2 linked regions of the Homo sapiens genome follow. The protein of the gene in region 1 purifies or fractionates together with the protein of each later gene. This does not show direct contact. Each region holds a gene or a part of one and is shown on either strand. Other genes may lie near its edges.

Evidence for each region.
Region 2: the proteins of SFMBT1 (region 1) and GSE1 purify together in Homo sapiens (affinity purification with mass spectrometry; one large-scale study listed by BioGRID and IntAct). This does not show direct contact.

Annotation. Positions count from the first base shown.
Region 1 is NC_000003.12:52,927,356-52,931,379, reverse strand, and holds part of SFMBT1 (scm-like with four MBT domains protein 1), read left to right. Parts: intron 1-344; coding exon 345-439; intron 440-949; coding exon 950-1,051; intron 1,052-3,038; coding exon 3,039-3,189; intron 3,190-4,024. UniProt on the Homo sapiens protein: Histone-binding protein, which is part of various corepressor complexes. Mediates the recruitment of corepressor complexes to target genes, followed by chromatin compaction and repression of transcription.
Region 2 is NC_000016.10:85,672,322-85,674,510, forward strand, and holds part of GSE1 (genetic suppressor element 1), read left to right. Parts: intron 1-83; coding exon 84-218; 3' UTR 219-2,189.

The sequences.
Region 1 (4,024 bases):
GAAATACCAATAATATTGGTATTTCTAGAGTTACTGTTTAAATCAATTTGCATTTATTATTATGTGCCCCAATTTGGATGTTATATTACAATTTTATGGATTACAACAATCATTATGATCTTACTGTAGGTATTTTCATAGAGCCAAGCTGTCCAGGCTCTGCATAGAGCAAAGTACTGAAGTTAAGGTGCAAGTTCTTTGAATGTAAAGGGATATAAGTGGGCTTGAACCCTTTTCTAGTTCCAGTGGAAAGTGACTTGTTTTTGTTTATGTGAATGCTTTCAGGACAGGTAAAAAGTATAAGTTTCTCATCATCTAAAGCATGTTGTCATGTTTTATTAAAGCCATTAGACATCTAAAAAATGAAGCTGAGTGGCAAGAGATTTTGGCCAAAGTGAAAGAGGAAGAGGAAGAGCCATTACCATCTTACTTATTTAAGGTAAAAACAAAACATGTGATAGACCGGTATTGCTCCCCTTACAGTAGAGTAAAGCAACGCAGGAGGTGAAAGTGTAAAGCAGCCCCTGCAGTCGGTAAGAATGCCATGGTCTCTGAAGGAGGAGGGTGTGTTAAGGCTGGACTGATGATCATCCTTGTTTTCTTCTAACAGTTGTCTAGATTTTCTCCCCAAGTTCTCCTAAAGTAGTTTGAACCTTTTCTTTTTTACCCTTAACTACATAGTCTTAACTGATAAAATAAATTTGTTTTTTTCTCCAGATATTCCTTGTCTTTGAATGTAGAGAGTAGAAGCACTTCTGTGTGTTTTGTTTTTTCCTGGATAGTTTTTTCCAGAGTAGAAAATTATATTGGATAGTTTTGCACATTTAAAAAAAAGAAGAAAACTATAGGATTTACCAGAGCTGGACATTTCTGTTAATCACAGCTACATGTGAGTGTAAGATTGATACAGATACTATGTTTTCATCCCCTTTTGGTGTCTGCATTTCAGGACAAACAAGTTATTGGCATTCATACATTCTCTGTAAACATGAAATTGGAAGCTGTAGACCCCTGGTCTCCTTTTGGGATCTCTCCTGCTACAGTTGTTAAGGTAAAATGGAGATAACTCTCTTGGTAAGAATCCCTGTCAAGGTGACTGGTTTAGGAAATGGGTAGTGTTTTGATCTTTAAGCTCTATTGATCCAACCCATTTTTCCTTCTAGGCCGTGCAGCTAGAATTACTTCTGTGCACGTTTTGTATTTGTCCAGTTTGCTGTGGCCCATTCCTCCTTCAGAGCTTGGTAGCCCTAGCCAAAGCAGCCTTGGGCCTGGGCACTGGACTAGTAGGGGACGCATTCTTTGGGGCAGGCCTAGCTGCATATAAGTAAAGGAGATTTAACTCCTTTAGGAGGCCAGGGTATCTGTAAAGTTGGAGGCAGGCAGTCTCATCAACGTCTAACCAGATGCAGAGCTCATTGGAATGAGGAGATGAATGGGGATCAGGCAGTTAGTGTTAAAAGTTCTGGCAGTGGACTGGCTCCAGCTATGTATTCCAGATTCAGATTTAATCTTTTGGAATACTGACAAAACTAAGAAGTAAGGTTATCAAGGCCCTGCTCAGTCACTACAACTGAGGCATTGGCGAGAGAATTTCAGTTTCCAACTAGAGCAGAAGGACATTTACTGAAAATAGAAGCCAAAGTTGAATGTGACTAGAGGAATAGTTGCCTGGGTGCTAAATCCTCTGACCTATTGAGATTTAAGTTTTCCCTGTCTTGGAAGAAGATTATTCTCAAAGCAAGGAGGGATTCTGAGCCTGCAGGTGGGGCCAGAAGGCCCTACCTAGAGTCTGAAGGGAGGGCTAGTGGGAAGCCAGAGGAAGTTCATAAAGTTATCTCTTTGGCCGGGTGTGGTGGCTCACGCCTGTCATCCCAGCACTTTGGGACGCCGGGGCAGGCAGATCACCTGAGGTCAGGAGTTCAAGACCAGCCTGACCAACATGGAGAAACCCCATCTCTACTAAAAATACAAAATTAGCTGGACATGGTGGTGCATGCCTGTAATCCCAGCTGCTCGGGAGGCTGAGGTGAGAGAATCGCTTGAACCCGGGAGGCGGAGGTTACGGTGAGCCAAGATTGTGCCATTGCACTCCAGCCTGGGCAACAAGAGCGAAACTCCGTCTCTAAATAAATAAATAAATAAAGTTCGTTCTTTGGCATTTGAAACTGGGCTAGGATTTGAAAAACTAATACATAGTAGCATAAGCTTAAACTAAGTTTGTCACTAAGCTTAGAATAAATTTTGTTTGGAGCCAAACTACATGGCTTTGGATCCAGGTTTTGCTTCTTCTTTGTTTTGTAACCCAGGGCAAGTTATTTAACCTCTGTTTGAACTCATTCTCCTTATCTGTGAAATGGAGTTGATAAAGGTACTTGGGCCAGGTGTGGTGGCTCATGCATGTAATCCCAGCACTTTGGGAGGCTGAGGCAGGAGGATTGCTTGAGCCCAGGAGTTTGAGACAAGCCTGGGCAATATATGGAGACCGAGTCTCTACAAAAATTAAAAAAAATTAGCTGGGCATGGTGGTGCATGCCTGTTGTCCCAGCTACTCAAGGGACTGAAGTGGGAGGATCAACTGAGCCCAGGAAGTCAAGACTGCAGTGCTTCGGTGAGCCAAATTCATGCCACTGCACTCCAGCCTGGGTAAGAGAGCAAGACCCTGTCTCCAAAAAAAAACAAACAAACTATATATATATGTGTGTGTGTGTATATATGTATATATGTGTATATATATATATATATGTATATATATGTATATATGTATATATATGTATATATGTATATATATGTATATATGTATATATATGTATATGTACTTACCTCATTCAGTTGTTAAGATTAAAACTGAATTGATACATGAAAAGCATTTAATTAAAACAGTAATTATATGTATTACATAACACAGAGCTAACATTTAGTGTTTAGTATTATTAATACCCACATGAGTATGAACTTTTGTAATATGTTTGGCTGTGCCAAGGAGAAAGCACATATATATGTGTGCATTTGTCTATTTCATCTATTAATTGCATGTATAGGTTTTTGATGAGAAGTACTTTCTGGTGGAAATGGATGACTTGCGTCCTGAGAACCACGCACGGCGATCCTTTGTGTGCCACGCCGACAGTCCTGGCATCTTCCCTGTGCAGTGGAGTCTGAAGAATGGCCTACACATCAGCCCCCCTCCAGGTGCACATTCGCTGTCTTCTGAATTGTCACTTGAGAGCTTCTCCTTGAAATGAGACATGTCAGATGGCATTGCTGAAATCTTTTGTCCCTCTCCTCCTGCCCTAGCCTGTTCCTAACGTTTTTGGGGTCTGAGAAAAGTATAAGGAAAGGTCTAGATTCCATGTATTTACATATTTGAAAGTTACAAACTGAGCTAAAAAACTGTTAAAGAGAGTGCGTTCTATCCTCTGACTTTGATATCTATGTCCTCATAACCCCCTGGAAAACCAGGTTCCAACCTGGGTTCGTGCTGGCTCCTTAGTCCCTTTTATGTCTGTTAGGGGTGGCAGAGGGGTGAGCTTGGATGCACAGCAAGCACTGGGGGCTGGCTTGTGAGAAGAGGCCGTAGAGCCAGAGTTAGAAGGTAGATTACTGATTATCTTTAGGTGTCTGAGCCTTGTCATGGAGGGGACTTTCTACAGAGAAGTTTATGGTGAAGAGTAGAACTCAGGGAGTAGGTAGGAAAATAAAAGCTCATTTTCCTGATATTTGCAACTTTGCAAAATATAGTCTTTGATCCTTTAATCAAGGCCCTTAATTAATGGGTTAGTTGAGCTTGACTGAAATTTTTAATATTTTTAAACTTAGAGAATCTAGAATATGTCAGATGTTTATCTGATTTTTTAATATTAGCAAATCAGATTATTTGATTGGCAGTCTATATATGTTATTAGTAGGTTTTCAGTAAAGCATAGCATCACTTTTCTAAATGGTGACTGCTGGAACACTGGGCTGGAAGTACTCTTTCTTGTTAACAAGGGTCATAAACTCAGAACCTTTGTCTTCCATTCAGCTT
Region 2 (2,189 bases), on another chromosome or scaffold:
TTCCATCCAGCATGTTTGTACTCTACATGCTTGTCCTTACAGAGGAAACGGGTTGGTTTTGACACAAATTTCCCTCTCTCCAGGAGTTGAGGAGCCAGAAACAGAAGATGGTCTCAGAAAGGGAGCGGCTCCAGGCAGAACTGGACCACTTACGAAAGTGCCTTGCCTTGCCTGCAATGCACTGGCCTAGGGGCTACCTGAAGGGATATCCCAGGTGACGGTTTCCCTTGCACTAGGCCGAACCTATAGTATAGAAATATTATCTATTTTATTACCTTGAATATTTAATATTTTTCACTGGGAGGTTTGAAGCTTACAAAATGAGAATGTGCCATGCATGAAGCAAAGGATTCCAGGCTCCAGAAAAAATGAATGAACTCACCTTGACGTCAATGCAATTGAATCACCGTTGTCATTCAGCGAGCAACCAATGTAGGATTGCCCACAGTTTTTCTTTTTAAAGGTGGTTTTCGCCCTTCCTCTCCCACATTATTTCTTAATCTGAACATGAAGGCTCCATTAGCAACACTAAAACTTGATCATTAACAGCCCCCTGTGCATATGAGTGGATCAAACCGGTTCTGTTCTTTCTTGTGTTGCCATGTTACTATGCCTCAAGCCCAGTTTGCTTTTGCCGCAGCGATGGGGCCAGTCTCATTCCTCCCCAGGAGTGAAACTTGCTTCAGCTGAAAAGGTTGGGTGCATTGTCAGTAAAAAGGGCTTATTTGTTTCATTTTACTTTCCTGCAAAATTTTCTTCAAAGCAACAAGTCCTAGGAGCACACAAAGCAACCCAAAGGCTTTTCCCTGGAAAAGCTCTTTCTTACCTAAAGATAAAACCAATTCACAAACTGAAGGTAGCTTTTTATTACTCCGTGGGGAGCATGTACAGAGCTCTGTGTATACACAGCTTCACACCCACCAGATTGTTACTACAGTGGGTTGGGTTTTCATACAGACGTAAATTTTGAGAGAAAAGTCAAAGGTGCTTCAGCCTTGTACTGTGTATATATATTAAAAAAAAAACAAAGTTTTGTATGTTTTTATTACTTTAACTATTGTTATAAAAAGCCTGCCATTTTTAATATGTGGTTTGGGGGATTTTTGTTTGTTTTTCCTGTTTGGGGGTTTTGTTTGTTGTTTTGGTTTTTTTTGGGCAAAAAAAAAAAAAAAACCTTGCTTTTAGTGTTTGTACTGCTGCTGGTCAGGACATTAAAATATTGAAGTGTTTTTAAAAATTAAAGAAGAAGAAAAGTAAAAGAGCTTACCACTGGCGCCTATGCGATCACTTCATTTTTAGTTTGAGTTGCACCAGAAGCTGCCGTAGAAAGCCATGCGCTACTGCTTACCTCCTCCACTCCCCCTGCCTGCCCCCAGCATCTGGACAAGCTAATAGCAAATATTACCCATTGCTATCAAGGGAGGAGGGGGTAGTCTGTAGAACCCATGTGTGACAGTCATGTGCACACATGGGCGGGGGCTTTTAAAAACCTTTCAGGAAGTCAATGATTTCTGTGATTGATATAATTCTAAGGTGTCTGAGAGCAGGTACAGAATAGGAACTTCAGAGGCTTTGTTTAAACGCAAAGCTTTGTAAAAGCCACAAGGTCTGAGCTGAACCCCTCCTTTTTGAACTTACTGTGACAAGCACAGGAACGGTCAGAAACTGGGCTCATCACACCAAGGCAAAGCAACGGGCGAGTCTTCCTCCTTGTCCTAGTTACTGCCTATGGAGGCAGTGTTTAGATCAAGAAGGCCTCTCTTGCTCCCAAGGGCCCTCACCAGAGGCCAGGGCTGCCAGTCACTGGTCTGGGGGGTGGAGGCCTGAGCTGAGGGCAGGGTGCCTGACCTGTGTGCCGGCTGCTCACTGCTGTGACCAGCAGCCGAGCCCTTGGCCCTAGCCCTTGCTGCGCAGAACAGCTTGCTGGCAGCTGGCATCGTGTCGCTTTATCTGCCCCCGCACAGTTTGCTTTGTACGTCTGCCAAGAATCTTCCAGTTATTAGCAAACTCAGACGAATGTACCGCCAGTATTATCAGCAGTCAACAAGCACCTTCCTCTCCACAGAAGCAGCTGGAAGAGAACTCGAGGGGCTGTGCTGCAGGCCTCCCCTCGAAAGACACTGGGAGGTCAGCATGTTCCACAGGTGTTCAGAGGGAGTCTGCTACAAACTATCAGGGCAAAATCTCAC